Linked DNA regions of Homo sapiens: region 1 is linked to region 2. A link means that fine-mapping ties the variant in region 2 to the expression of a gene that starts in the linked region. Tissue or cell type: whole blood. Region 2 holds a variant in brackets; the other region holds the start of a gene. All regions are shown on one strand. Distances are between the middles of the regions.

What was found. PIP is the estimated chance that this variant, and not a neighbour inherited with it, causes the effect.
Region 1: it holds the start of TGFA, and the variant in region 2 is fine-mapped to the expression of TGFA in whole blood (TOPMed, PIP above 0.99).

The regions. Positions count from the first base shown.
Region 1 is chr2:70,549,477-70,557,476 of GRCh38, forward strand. It overlaps TGFA (transforming growth factor alpha), which reads right to left and starts at 4,350. Exons shown (of 6, transcript NM_003236.4): 1 at 4,252-4,350. The coding sequence starts at 4,291. It overlaps LOC124907824 (a long non-coding RNA gene), which reads left to right and starts at 3,232. Exons shown (of 2, transcript XR_007086906.1): 1 at 3,232-3,916. RefSeq lists a silencer at 4,411-4,480.
Region 2 is chr2:70,520,803-70,528,802 of GRCh38, forward strand. All of the region lies in intron 1 of TGFA (transforming growth factor alpha), which reads right to left. Among named protein-coding and RNA genes, the nearest start is that of TGFA, 29 kb to the right of the region's middle. RefSeq lists an enhancer at 3,210-3,826. The variant G/C (reference allele first, on the strand shown) is at 3,262.

The DNA of each region.
Region 1 (8,000 bases), 29 kb after region 2:
ATCACAACCGCAGTGGAGGAGGCCTGGCCATCCATTTTAACCAGCCCTCCAGATCATTCCAATGTAAGGCCTGCTGTAGAGGATACTACAGAGGTTTTGAGTGTGACACCAAGCACAAGATGCCTAATTCAGTGTGTACAAGCCATTTTCATTTCCATTAACCAAACCTCCTCTTCCCGTTGCCCATCCCTTTTAGAGGGCAGTGCAAAGAGTAGGACCTTGTTCAAGACACACTTTGAAAAGGTCCTTAGGCCTAATGGAAAAGTCATCTATTTTTCATATGTTGCCACAGTAACAGTAACAAGAAGCATCACTTATTCCTATAAGAAAAGTCCCCTTTGCAGGGGACATTGAGTATTTATAGAAAGATCACTTTATCCTGAGGAACCCAAAATCTGGAAAAGCAAATATGGAAAACTCAGCCTCTAAGGCTTCCATATACAGCTTTACAGCCCATGTTCTAAGTGAACACTCCCTAATTATGGCTGCCCAATACGGAAAACATGTGTCCTAGGAAAACCTCCACTGTCTACTCTGAAAGACATCACGTCCAGGTAATAGAGAAAAGAAACGTCTTCTTTCAGTTCCCGTACTGGTCCCTCAGTCCTGACTTAAACAGGGAAGGTGATCTATTTCGCCTCTGCCCATCCTTAATGCTACTTCATTTCCTATGACATCATTCTTTAGGTCCACATTCGGTCCTTACTTACGGGAGTTGCCATAAAAATAATAAAGCTTATCTCTGGATTATAAAATCCATTTTTGTATCATAAGATCAGTTGCATTTTGTGTGCAGTCCTTATTTTTTTTTATAAATAGCTTCCATATTTACCATCTCATTTGAGTCTTACAACAGCCTGTGAGGTGGGCACAGTTTTATTATTCCCACTTTACAGATGACAAAACTGGAACTTAGTGCTAACTTCCATAAACAACTGATCGTTGAATACTAAAGGAGATACAAAAAATTTGCATAAAAAATTAAATAATTAAATAATTAAAATTAAAAAAGATTAAATTAAAAAGAATTAAAGAATTCATGATGTCTAAAAGAACCTCCAGGGCCGGGCACGGTGGCTCACGCCTGTAATCCCAGCCCTTTGGGAGGCTGAGGTGGGTGGATCACGCGGTCAGGAGATGCAGACCATCCTGGCTAACACGGTGAAACCCCGTCTCTACTAAAAATATATTTAAAAAATTAGCCGGGCGTGGTGGCGGGCGCCTGTAGTCCCAGCTAATCGGGAGGCTGAGGCAGAATGGCGTGAACCCGGGAGGCGGAGCTTGCAGTGAGCCGAGATCGCGCCACTGCACTCCAGCCTGGGAGACAGAGCGAGACTCCGTCTCAAAAAACAAAAAACCAAAAAAACAAAAGAAAACAAAACAAAAAAACCCTCCAGATTTGCTTGAATTTGTCATTGGCCAAATCATATTCACCAGAAATTACCTAGGTAGGTTTTTAGGTTGGGTGATATTTTTCGAAGGAATGGTAAAGAGCATGGAGATGAGATAAACGAAAACCTACAAACTCTCCCAGTTATACAACTCACATAACCTGCAATGATGTCTGGAATTCTATGGGGCCCAAAGTAACAACAACAATGATGATGATGATAAGATTAAGATCTTACTACATACCAGGCACCCTTCTGCATACATTAAATATATTCAACAACCCTATTAATATCCCCATTTTGCAGGTGAGAAAAACAAGGCATAGAAAAGCTAAGTAACTTGCCCAAGATCACACATCTTGCTCCGTGAACACAGAGGAGGAAATGTAACTGGAAATGCCAAGCCCCCGTGCGGTCTGCCTGCCAGTGATGGAAACCTGACATGGGAGGGCAGCCACCACAGGAACCTGGGTTATGTTTCCAGTGTTGCCATTTGGGCAACAGTCTTCACATTCTCTTACTGAAAACATTAATCAATGCTCAGGTTCCAAGTAATCAAACATTAACCGAGACTCCTAACAGCCAGTTCCTTCTCAGACTAGCCCCACGGAGGTTTCCTAGATCTCGGGTAGCGATGGAACACTGGTTGATTCTCCTGGAACTGCCTTCAACTATTTAAGAAAAATCAGAGGGGAAAGCAGCTTTGAAGGAAATGTGCAAAGTAAAGCTATATGTGGGAGGCAGCAGTTCTAGTAAACGCACAGAACTCACAGCTGTGATTTTTCTTTTAAAGACATATAAATAAAAAGGAGTCCTCACTGGTGTAAATTACTCCTGCCTTTTTTTTTTCTCCACTTTTTTCAACTGCTCACATTTTGGAACTGTGTGAGCAAGTTTTTACATATTGATCAATCTTTTAAAGTTTATACATCATTTTCTTAAAGAAGGAAACAAAGATCAAGCTGAAAAGAACATTCAGGCAAAAGAGAAAAATTACATGATGAATGAATGCAGTCTTTGTGGGCGAGAATTCTGGGATGGGAGTGTGGGGTGTAGGGACAGCTTTCAAACACTTACTCAAATGTGCTTATCTTCATCATTTCCTGCCTCTAATTTTTACCGAATAACCACCTTGAGATCCCAGGAATTCAATAGGAAACTCAATTTAACAACAAGTTCCAGGGTATTCCACATAATCTCTCTTTAAGGCAAAGTCCCAAAAGAGAGATGGGACTATAATGACCACAAGTTAGGTGACTTTTCATATTCACATTCCTTCCACGTTCTTCGACAATCCTGGTCCAGTTACTTACTGTGGACCCTGTGTGCTTTACTTTCCTCTGCTATATAATGAGAATAATATTAACACCTTCTTTATCCGGTTGGTGTGAAAACTGCATGAATAAATGTAAAGCACTTGGACTGTGTCTGACACAGAGTAAAATGCTCGAATAGCATCAGCTGTTATTACTACTACTACTTACTACTATTATTTGCAAAAACATTACAAGGGATAATTATATCCAGGAAGCTTCCCTTGTATTGGTAATGTTTTATTGCTTTTTCTAAAATTTAAATCAGAGCAACAGTCAATACATGCACACAAAAAAGGCAATTCTTCAAAAATGTGGGGGAAAAGCCTCCCATACCCATGTTACCTGCTGGTGAGTTTCAGGTAAGGGTGTAGCTGGGAGCATCCGGTTCCAAGACTGCCTTGTATTTCTCTTACAGGATGCCTCCCCTTCTGCTGCGGTTTTTAATCAGCGTTTCTAGGGCAGGCTTGCAGGCGGGGCCGCGAACCCCCTGTAGTTGTACACGGAGCTGGGTGAGGCTGCGGCTCTGGGCATTTCTGGGGAGGAGTTCCATGGCTTTCCACAGACTCTAACCACCCTGCAGCGAGCCGCATGCTATACGGGTTAAACTCGGGGCATATCGAACGAACAATTCACTTCACGGAAGACTAGCAATAACCAGGACACCTGCGCTATTGATCAGCTATCTCAACACCAGAGAGACCCACCAGCACAAGGGGCAAGAATTGGCCAGGAGGCGCGCGGCGCTGCGCCCTCACCGCGTCCAGACAGACCCTTGAACTTCACCGCCAAAAAACGCACCGCTCCGCAGACCCGACCCGGGAGAGGGGTTTAACTTCCCCTCACCTTTCCCATCCCTCCTTCATTTCCAAGGACATACTCAAAGGAAACTGGCAACACTCGGTCTAGGGTTTCGCTCCTGCCCTCGGCGGACACCGAAACCACTTCTCCCAGGGAAGTTAATTAAAGGAACCATTAATCCGCCCAAAAATCCAAAACCTACCCCCAAAGCTCAAGAGCTCTGAAAAGAGATCGAGGGCGCCTCTGCCGATCTTGAACATCTCTGCTCGTCGCTGGGGCTTAGAGGTGGGCAGGGGGTGCCAAAGGGGCGCAGGCAAGACCCGGCCAGAGGGTTAGACGCCGGCCCCCGTTCCGAGGCGGCCCAGTCTACACGCCAGCGACGCCGGCTGAGCCGGGCTTGGAGGCAGCCAGGTAAGCAGGTAGGTGTAGGCATGTGTCTGAGCAGACACACAGCTGCGGCGGATTAAAGTTCAAGCCCGTTCACACTCCGCTTCCCCTTCCCAGGTGTTCTCACGCACGGCCCAGGCAGCCACTTTCCCGGGGAAGCCTCGGCGCTCGACCGGACAGTCCCCTCTTTGTCATTCTTAATGACTCCCCTTGCCTCCCAGGCGCCAACCCATTGAGACTACTCGCTTCTCTCCACTCTCCCAGGCGGGCGCAGAAACCCCCGGAAAGGGGAACTCGGCGGGGACCGGGGGAAGCAGGGTGTCGCGCGGCGCAGGGGGCGCCGCAGCCGGCGTACGTACCCAGAGCGAACAGGGCGAGCTGTCCAGCCGAGGGGACCATTTTACGGGCGGGCGGGCAGCAGGCTCTCCAGCCTCCTGCCCTACCTGCGGTGCCCGAGTGGCGGAGCGGCGCCGCGGTGCGGGGGAAAAAGACGCAGACTAGGCAGGGCCTGCCCCCGGCGCGGGAGGGCGGAGGGAGGACCGAGCGCCTCTCTGCTGGCACTCGCCCCGCAGCGCTGCCCGCCGGGCGGAAATAGGAAGGCGGCTACCGTCACCTCCTCGCCACTCGGCGACCGGGGCACAGCTGACCCCCCCCTCCCGCCCCGATGGGGGTGCCCCCCTGAGGGCACAGAGGGTGGGGGTTTGGGGTAAGGGGCGGGGACGCTGAGCGCACCGAGCAGGGCGCGGGCTGCTGGGCGGGGCGACCTGGGATCCCAGAGCCTGGCGGCGCGAGCCGGGCACCCGGGCCGACGAAAAGGCAGGAAGCGCCTGACTTCAGACACCACCCCCGACTGCCAGCGCCGTGCGGCAGCGGACTCCAGCGTGCGGGGTCGGCGCCGGCCGCGTAGCCGGATTGTCCTGGGCCGCAGTGGCGGCTTCCAGGCTCTAGGCGGCGGAGCGGAGCCGCCCGGGCACCCGTTACCTACACCGAGGGGCCGCTCCTGGGGCATCTCTGGGGCGGGGAAGGCTGGAGGCTGGGGACGCAGCCAGGAAAGGGACCTGTGAGTTTCGCCGGCCGCTTGCCAAGACTTGGCTCAAGGAAAGTGGTCCCCTGAATCAATGAAGAATTTGTTAAACCAGGTTTCCCACCTGTGCCACAGTTCCCATCAATTCTGGCAACGCCTGCCGCCTTACCTCCCAGGCAGGCCACATCGTTAAGATCAGTCTTCGTACTTCTGGCCTGGGACTGATAAAAAATGGGTCTCTGTGACGAATCTGGTTATATGGCACCACCAGCTGAGGCCAAAAGCCTGCTAGCCTGCCACCAAGTGTACCCCGAAAGAGGGGTGTGTGGGCCCGAGTCACCTGGGTGGTCCTTTCAGGATTTGTGGCTCTGAGGTGGCCCCTGGTGCTGGAATTTGGGGAGGTGGAGGGGATAGAGGGAAGACATTCTGGGCGAAGAGTGGAAGATCCATAGGTTCCTCGGTGACCCTCATGGGGACAGTACACCCGGGAGATTCATGTTCTCCAGGTACCCGGAGCTCACGGACTGACCCTCTTCTCCTGCCTCCTCTGGCCTACGTGCTCCGGGTAGATCCACTTTCCTTGAAGGTGGGGGTGGGGGCTGTTGGGCCTGGGGAATCTTTTGCTGTTTACTTGGGGAGGCTCAGGCTCTCACGGTTGACCTCTGCCCAGTTTGTTTCATGTAAGTAGAGCAACCTAGTTTCAAGAAGGAAGCACCAGGCCATTGGTCTCAACATTTGGGCAGGAAGCACCAGTGTAAATCATTCCTTTCAATAGATTTGTCGGAGCATACTTTGTTCTTTTAGGGTAAATCTTTTCCTTGGTCCACCCCATGCATGTACAAGGCACACATGCACTTCCTTTAGTAGGTTGTCCCTGACTCCCACTTCCTTCAGGTTGATCTTGACCTGCTCTGGTGGTTTCCCTGTCTCCTCCCTAAACTAGTCTGCTTTGGCTACAGAAGGGGAGGAATCAGGGGTTCCCCCACCCTTCTCCTGTTCCCCAGGACTAGAGAAGGACCTGACTCCTTGCTTCCTACTGGAACACGCAAATCAAGCTCACTGTGGCTGAGGGATGGCTGCCCAGCCGGCTGAGGGTCATGTTCAGCAGTTTCTGCTTATCTGTCCCCTACCCCCAAAGTCAGAGGTGGAGGGAAGTAGCAGAATCAAGTCAATTTCCTTCATGATTGGAAAATATTTTAAATCAAGAGGTAACTTGCAGGCCAGGCATGGTGGCTCACACCTGTAATACCATCACTTTGGGAGGCTGAGGTGGGTGGATTGCTTGAGCTCAGGAGTTCGAGACCAGCCTGGGCAACATGGTAAAACCCCCCATTTCTACTAAACATACAAAAAATTAGCCAGACATGGTGGCGTGCGTCTGTAGTCCCAGCTACTTGGGAGGCTGAGGCACGAGAATCACTTGAACCTGGGAGGCAGAGGTTGCAGTGAGCCAAGATTGTGCCACTGCACTCCAGCCTGGATGACAGAACAAGACTCTGTCTCAAAAAAAAAAAAAAAAGAAAAAAAGAGATGGCCGGGCGCGGTGGCTCACGCCTGTAATCCCAGCACTTTGGGAGGCCGAGGCGGGCGGATCACGAGGTCAGGAGATCGAGACCATCCCGGCTAAAACGGTGAAACCCCGTCTCTACTAAAAATACAAAAAAAATTAGCCGGGCGTAGTGGCGGGCGCCTGTAGTCCCAGCTACTTGGGAGGCTGAGGCAGGAGAATGGCGTGAACCCGGGAGGCGGAGCTTGCAGTGAGCCGAGATCCCGCCACTGCACTCCAGCCTGGGCGACAGAGCGAGACTCCGTCTCAAAAAAAAAAAAAAAAAAAAAAAAAGAAAAAAAGAGATAACTTGCCATCTTACAAACTAAAGAGTATCCAAATCAAAGTACATTCTAATGCTTGAAAATCATTAATTCTCCCTCCAAGATTTTCAAAAGCTGGTCCATATCTGTGGTTTTATAACCCTCCAATTCATTCAAGTCAAACAGGTCATCAGGGGCTGGGTGTTTTTTTTTTTTTTTTTAACTTAAAGATCATTTTTTTGGTAAACTGAATTGAAATGATTTTTAAACGTTTAGTCATAGAGGAAACCTAATATCCTAAATTGTTGATGCTCTATCTTTTGTATTTTATATATCTCATTTAATCCTCACAATAATCTTATGAGATAGATCCCATCCCCTTTTATAAGAGAAGAATCAAGACTGAGTGAATTTAGTAACTTACCCAGAATTACACAGCCAATAAAGGGCAGAGCTTGATTTTGAAAGCAGAACAAGCTGGTTCTGAGGCTTATGTGCTGGCTTCTCTGCTATACTGCCTCGGTTTCCACATTTTCAATAAGGATAATGCTTAACTCATTGGGTTGATGTGAGTACTAAATGCAAGAATTTATTTGCATACTTAGCATAATATTTGACATCAACAAAACTACCTATTATTTAAAGGAAAACTCCCTCAGTGGACACACCTTTCCCTTGTCTTAGTTCCTTACCACTATCTTTATGTTATCATTTTCATATCAGCTTCTTTGCTTGAGCATATGCATGTACATGCACGTGCATACCTCTTCCTATGGGAAATATTTTCATAGGTGAATCAGGAGGTATGAAGTTGTTTCTCAGCTGTGGTGTGAAAGAAATAAGAAAAAAATTGACAGAACGCGATTTAGAGCAAAGCAATCATTTTTCCTAAAGGGTGGTGTGACATTTTGTATTGGAACACCTCACTCTCTGAGCCGAGTGAAATTCCAACTGTAGCCCCTTGAAGCTGTGTGGAGACTCAGGTATGCGCCTTCACCTACAGACACTGCATCTGTCTCGCGTGGCCACTGCAGCTCCTGTTTCTCTGCACGTGGAGCCTGATGATTATGTGGCCTTCCCACTAAGAGTCTGCCTGGACTGCCTTTGCACACACTTGCTGCAGCTGGCCTTGAGCTCAGTATAATCTCTTCTGTGAGAAGCCAATCACAGCCTCTCCTCCCTGTGCAAACAAGAGAACTATGTTATGCTCTACTGAGAGCCGGTAAACCGCCCTGTCAGTTTTCCCTTTCCTTTCTCCTACATGCTTATTATAGA
Region 2 (8,000 bases):
TCCAACCTCCACCACTCTCCACAAGGCCTGTACCCCAGATCATGTGTTCAAAATTGAACTCATGTCTTCCACCTCTTCCTTGGTTCTGGGCGGGACTGATAACTAGGCAGTCATTGTCAGCCCTTCCCTCTCCTTCACCCAGTATCCAAGCCAAGCCCTCCTACACACCCAGCCTCCACACCGTCCATCCTATCCATCCCCCTGCATCCCTGCTGTTACTGCCCCAATTCAGGCCCTATCATCTCTCCCTGTGCTATCAAAATAGTTGTTAGACTGGTTTTCTTGCCAACAGCTTAAAAAAAAAAATCTTTGCTCCTACTACTAGACTGACCTTGCTGAATGAAATCACTCCTATCCTCTAAGCTCTCCATGGGCTCTGTACCACTCACAGAACCCAGCGCAGAGACAGAACCCAGCCCCAAGTCCTGAGTAGAGATTTAGCATGCATAACCTGATCCTAGACCTCGTTTCCACCTAAACTCCACCCATTCCCTCCTGTCAGGTCCTCTGACCCCAGCTGCCCAGCACTGCCCCTTTTCCCTGCACAAAAATTGGCACTCCCAACTTGGTGCCTTGGGTTCATGCTACTAGGATCCTCACCCAACTTCTTATGGCTGCTGACTTTAGTTTAGTTGCCTGAGCCTCAGTTTCCTTCACTGTAAAAGCAGATAAAGATATCCAACTCTTGCACAGGGTTGTTTAGAGATTAAACGAGAGACACATGAGAAAAATGTGGTATATTGAGTGACACACAATAAACATGCAACAAATGGTAGCTGCTACTATTGATAGTTTTTTTTGTTGTTGTTTGTTTGTTTTTTTTTTTTTTTTTTTTTGAGTCTCGCTCTGTCTCCTAGGCTGGAGTGCAGTGGCACGATCTTGGCTCACTGCAACCTCTGCCTTCCGAATTCAAGCGATTCTTCTGCCTCCGCCTCCCGAGTAGCTGGGACCACAGGCACGCGCCACCATGCCTGGCTAATTTTTGTAGTTTTAGTAGAGACGGGGTTTCACCATATTGGCCAGGCTGGTCTTGAACTCCTGACTTCATGATTCACCTGCCTTGGCCTCCCAAAGTGCTGGGATTACAGGCGCAGGCCACCGTACCGAACCTATTGACAGTTTTCATTCACATCATGCTGATCTCTCAAGTCGGCATATCCCATCCTCTACCCATGGGAATCAAATTGGCCTCTCAAAGCCTTGCTCAAATGTCAGAAATAATCATTTCTTCCTCAGAGGAATCCTTACTTTATTCTGCCTTGCAGTTCAGAAGTTTTTACATCTTACCTGTCTCTCCTCTCTAGTGCGGTCAGGAGCTGTGGCTAAATCATCTCTATCCTTACACCTGGCCTAACGCACCTACATAGGATTTTAATACATTTATGTTGAACTGAATTTCTCTAAGAGGTCACCAGCTTGAAAACAGAGTTAAAGTCTCATCAAAGACTTGGACTAGGGGCTGGGTAGTGAGTAGTGAGGGTGTACAGATGGGGAATGGGAAAACCTGCAGATCCTCGGGAATTCCTTTACTTCTAGTCTAGATCCCTGCCGCTACAGCTCTAGGTCTTGGTTCTTACTCTAATTTCAGTGGAGATGAGGAGCACTTGAATTTTTATTTCCAACTTTTATTTTTTATTTATTTACTTTTTTATGATGGAGTCTTACTCTGTTGCCCAGGCTGGAGTACAGTGGCATGATCTCAGCTCACTGCAACCTCCACCTCCCAGGTTCAAGCAATTCTCCTGCCTCAGCCTCCTGAATAGCTGGGATACAGGTGTGTGTCATCACACCCGGCTAATTTTTTATATTTTTGGTACAGACGAGGTTTCACCATGTTGGCCAGGCTGGTCTTAAACTCCCGACCTTAAGTGATCCACCTGCCTCGACCTCCCAAAGTGCTGGGATCACAGCCAACTTTTATTTTAAGTTCAGGGGTACACGTGCAGGATGTGCAGGTTTGTTACTTAAGTAGACGTGGGCCATGGTGGTTTGCTGCACAGAGCACTTGAATCCTGACATTCATTCATTCAACAAGTGCTCACTGAGCACCTGCTGCACCATTAGCGGGACATTGTCTAGGTGCTGGGCAGAGAGCAATGAATGAAAAGTCCCTTCCTATGAGAAAGGATCCTTCCAATTCTCAAAAGCCATTGAACTCCATTATAAATAGCTGTACCATTGTTCAGTTGGGTGGTAAGTTAAATCTGTGTTTTTCTATTTAAATGATATTAAATATTCCCACTACAATATTGAAAAATCCATGAGGAATGAAGGAACTGTCATCCTTATCCAAAGCCCGGATTTAAGTCTGCTGAAGTGGCCTGTCAAGTGGATCCTGCATTGTTTGGTCACCCGATGAGATGACCCCTGAAATATTTTATTTTCCTACCCTTAACTCATTTTGTTGGCTTTTCCTGAAACTTTTATAAGAACACAAAGACTTCCATCCAGTGACCCCAAAGAGGCCTGGCCATATCCCAAGGAGGCTAAGACAGAGGAGTGAACGCTCATTGTGAACGTTCGTTGTGAATGTTGTGTCCCAGGGCTCTTCAAGCAAAGGCAAGACTTGCCACAAGGAGTTTACAATCCAGATGATTGAAGCAAACACACTCACTGGTGTTCCTGTATCTCTGATGCTCCCTATTACAGCCCTTTCTTCCACCCAAATGTTTCTACCTAGTCCGGGTCTCTTACAAACACTAACTCCTTCTCTTCTGCGTAGAAAAGCCTCCTTACTGCCTGACGTCATTTCTACCAGCCTTCCAGGTCGAGCTCAATCCCCAAGTCCTCCACGATGCCCCCTGACCACTCTGGCAGGCAGAGCTCCCTGCCTGCACCTCCTAATACCCACCAGCACTGGGCTGGGTATAAGATCAGGTCACTCACATGGACTAGTATCTCCTGTCCCTCCTTCTCTCAGCCCAGACCTCATTTCCCACCATTACTGATTTAGGAGAGCTGGTTACTATCTTTCCCTACTTCAAGAGACAAATGAGAATATTGGCAAACTGCTTTGAACTCTTTAGAGTCAATGCCACTAACAAGTGCCCAGAACTGACACCACAGAAGTAACCTAGTTGTTACATAACCCTTTGCAGCTATGTTAACAGAGAAGTAACATAGCTGCAAAAGGAGGTGAAATGCTTTTCCTGACATCTGGAGAAGCATGCAAAAAATAAACAACTAAATAAAAAAGGCACAGAGACCCTTGGAGGAGGAGCCAGTTGCTTCCTGTTGAGACACTTTTGTTTCTAAGGCCCG[G/C]CCACTGTGATGCAACAACTCACACTGCCACACAGACATCTTCCTGTATTCTCCCCAACATGTTACCCACTTCAAAGCCTTATAGAATAAGGCTGCCCACTGATCTGGTGGTCCGAGAGAACCCTCTCTCATAAAGCAAAGCAAATAGCAGATAGGTAAAACATCTTTATCCAACAGTGTTAACCAGGATGCAGCACGCATCTGGCTAGAGGTGAGGAAGGCCCTGTGCTTGCTCTCACCTGTGCAGATCTATGCCACACCCTTTTGTGCCAGGAGGAAGCAATTGTCTCTTCCGAAGAGTTTAAGCCTTATCAAAGACTTAGACCAGGGGCTGGGTACTGAGTCAACCTTCCTCTTCCCCAGGCCTGCTCACGCACTGGCTGGCTGAGGGCCCCCATCCAAATTCCTGGAATTTCAAGGCAACAGGGCGAGTATCGCCGAGCCCTCTCGGGCTGGCTGGAGTTCCCCAGCTGCTGAATCACCAACAGGCTCTACCAGGGCCGAGTTCTGAGGTTGCAGAGAAGCCGTGCCAAGCTGAGGCACTCTGAAAACCTGTTCCAGCTGACTGGCACTGTGACACGAGGCCTTGAGGTGTCTCTGGAAAGGGTTACACTTGATTTTCCCAGAGTCCAGGAGGGAGGAAGAAGGGGATGGCGGCAGTGGGCTAGGGACAAAGCTGGGGATAAAGTGGCAGATGCTATAGCTATCCACAGGGCCCTGGGCCCTTTGCATTGTGAACCAGCTGAGCAGAGGGCACCTGGCTGACAAGAAGTACAGGAACCAAACACCACCTCTGGAAGGATCCATGGGGAGGTTATAAGTCCCTCCCTATCCGTGAAGGCCCATTGGCCCCATCTCAACTTCCCTGGCCTGTGATGTCTCAGAATTACCATCCTCTGGGCCCAGGTGAGCAGTGGTTCTGCTGGTGTGCACCTCGGGCCAGCAAAGTTAGACTCTTGGTGGCTGAAATCAAACCAAGCCCATCCCCTCAGCTCAGTCAAAGCCATGTGTGGGCATCATTCACACAAGTGGCTTGAAAGTAGGGTATGAGCAGGGAGGAGGTAAAAACAAGCAATCCTTGAACTCTGTCCCATTTCCTCCATGTGAATAGCTTGGTGATGACAAACTCATCCCTGCACCCTGGTGCACAACACCCTGGACACCCCGGAACCACCCTGCAGAAGGCATTGTGAGGCTTTGGGTTTGGGCCAATACAAATACCAGTGTGACTTGGCAGAATCTCAGATCAATGCAGCATCAGCCTGGAAGTAGGGGATGGGGGAAGGGGACAATGCTGCCCCATTGCTAATCCCCACTGTCCACCTTGGGGGCTGGCCACAGGACACCCCTTAGGCATGCTCACTTGAGTTGATAAGGGTGGCTGATTAAGAAGCAAGTTCAATCAAGAAGGAAACAAATCCCCAGAACTACAGGTTTTCAAGAGTTAAGGGGTAAATACACTTACTTCTTGCAGCTCCACATTTCTCAACCCACATCACACTGCAAACTGGCAGAATCTCTAAGTTCTCCTCCTTGGGCCCCAGAAGCAAGGGGCAGGAGGAGGGAGAAGAGGCTAGTAGGGGAGAAAGGCCTGGGCAACAAGTGCAGGCTCCAGGTGCTGAAGAGGAGGAGTGGACGGGGTGGTACTCAGATTTACTCCCTTTCACTGGGAGACCTTGACCAGACCACCCGCTAGCCCAGGGGTTCTTACTGCTGGTAGCAGATGCCCCTTAGGGAGCATCTGAGAACCTGTGGTGGGAGGTGCTTTCTGACTGTCACAAGGACTAGGGGGCACTACTGGTACTTAATGGTGGGGCCGCGGATGCTAAGTTTCTGATTTCTGTAATGCACAGAACCTTGTCTTGCTTAACATATTGACAGTGCACTCTGTTGAGAAATTCTGGGCCCCAACAGAGAAAGTCTCTTCAACTGCAGGTCATTTAGTTTCCAACTGTATATGGGCAGATGTACCCAAAACTCAGGGGAAATGCAACAAGCTTGTAGTCACATGAGCAGACAGGGCCACTCATTAGAGCCTTGAAAATGGTCACAGAAGGACCATGGTGATCCAACCTGCCCCATTTACCTGGAATGCTTTTTCCTGTCAGCTCTTCCCTCTATTCTCCAGGTCATCAGCCTGTGCCTGTCTTGTCTGTCTCTTTGTATTAACCCAAAGCATTCAGGTTACACAACATGAAGCCTATTTATAAAGTAACAAGACTGACAAGTCACAAAACCCACTCCAGGTGTTTTATAGTGGTGGGGTTCCAATGAGACTCGGAAGCCCCAAGAGGGAAGAAACACACGGGGATGATGCATTTGACTTTCTTTTGGTCCACTGCCAGATTTTAAGGCCCCTAATGTATCTCCCTCAGGTCAATACATGTTCTTACCAGCCACGTGTAGCAAAGCTGTTCAGTTAATGCCCCAAATGCACTTAGTTGTATGGGCAGAATCTCATTTATTGACTCGAGACAAACCAGTAAGGAACAAGGCATGCCAACCCCAGAGCTGTGGGGCAGAGAGCATCATGTATCTTTTAGCAGTGTCAATTTAAGACATTTTAAAGGAAAACAAAAATCCCGGAGAAAATGCAATAGCTCTGCTATGGGAAAATGGGAGTGGGATCTCCCCTACCAACCCTGCTCTAGTCCATTTTCCCCTTTAACTTTTGCTGGGGAAAGGGTGGTGATGAGAAGCAAAAAGGAGGGAGAGGGAAAAGAGGAAGTTTTCTGCTAGGATGGTTTAGTTCTAGCAAGAACAGAGACCAGCAGGAAGACTACAGAAAGAAGAATGAAGGTGGCAGCATTTCACCTTTAAGTCCCATGTAAGAGTGCAGTGAGAAAAGGGTTTCAGGTTACTAACAGTTAGTGTATTTCTGAAGTATTTTCTGGAAAAATTAGACTCATCTAAATGAAAGTGGTTCAGGAGTCAAAACCAATTGATAAAGTGGTCCAGACACTTTAGAAGACAGTTTTTCAGTTTCTTACAAAATCAAACACACCCTTATACAATCCAGCAATAGTGCTCCTTGGTATTTACCCAAATTAGTTGAAAACTTATCTTCAAAGAAAAATCTGCATATAGATGCTTACAGTAGCTTTAATCATAACTGTGAAAACTTGGAAGCAACCAAAATATTCTTCAGTAGGTAAATGGATAAACAAATTGTGGTACATTCATACAATGGGATATTATACAGCAATGAAAATAAATAAGCATCAAGTCACATAGAGAAAGCTTAAATACATATTACTGCATGAAAGACGCCAGTCTGAAAAGGCTGTATATTGTATGATTCTAACTATATGACAGTCTGAAAAAGGCAAAACTGTAGAGATTGTAAAAAGATCAGTAGTTGCCAGGGGCTTGGGAGAGGGGAGAAAGGGATGAACAGGTGTAGCACAGGCAATTTTTAGGTCAGTGAAATGACTCTGTACAATACTATAATGGTGGGTATGTGTCATTATAAATCTGTCCAAACACATAGAATGTACAACTACAAGAGTGAGCCCTAATGTAAACGAGGGACTTTAGTTTATATCTAACTTTAGTTAACTAATATTAACTTTAGTTAATAATGTACCAAAATTGACTCATCAATTGTAACAAACATATCACACCAATGCAGGATGTTAATAACAGGTGAAACTATGCAGTGGGGTAAAGCTCTCTGTGCTTTCTGCTCAATTTTTCTGTAAATCTAAAGCTACTCTAAAAAAGTATTCTATTACCAGCTGATGACAGTTACAGCACTGTGAAGTTGGATGACTTTACTCTGCACTCTGGATTGTCCAGTCATACTGTTTCCCTAGGTTCAAGTACAACGTCCTTCTCCTAAGGAAGCCATGGCAGGGGCAGCTTGAGTCAGACATTTCTGGAAATGCAGAGGAGACACTGCTTAGTCGTGGATGAGCAGCCTTGTACGGAGCACTGTGGCTCTCAGCCTCATCTGCTGCCCTGTGGGCTCAGCTGATTGCAAAGACAGACAAAGCTCACTTCCAGCCTTTGCCATCACTATGAATTCTACCCTGCTGAAAACAGAGAGGGCAGAAGCACGCTTATTTCTCACCTATGGTGAAATGTGTTGAAGGGCTATGTTCAGTAACATCTAATTTTAGTCAACTAGTCTTAACTTTAGTTAATAATATACCAATATTTTTGATATATTTTGAACAATTGCTCATTAATTGTAACAAACATACTACACCAATATCACATGTTAATAACAGGGTCATAGTAGCATGTATTCACAGTGGCTCCCAGGGAGAAGCAATGACCAGCTTCGGTCAGTAGCTGATCTCGCCGGGCTGGGCTGCCCTGTACCCCAAGCCTCACTCTCACACTGGGAGCATGTCAGACGAGAGGAGGCCGAGAAAAACAATGATCCCTGTGGAAAGAGGCATGGAAAAGGCAGGGGTTGGGGGAGTGGGGAGGGAAGGGTAGAACGATGTGGGGGGCGGGTGGGTCTTCCAGAGAAGTCATCTAGTAGAAAGGTTGACAGGCACACAGTCAGGAATCTGAGCAGCCTTTGAAACAACCAAGAAAAGCCAGTATCCTGGTTTTAGTGCAACTGGCCTTGCTTGTGTGGTTTCCCACAAAAAAGATGATGTATCTTAGGCGCTCTGGCTCTCAGCTGGGGATAAGTTATCAATACAATTTTTAAAAATCTATTGTCAGTGAGCTCTGTGACCAAGAGGGCAGAACCTAAGAGTTACTACAAGGGTAGTTTAATTCAA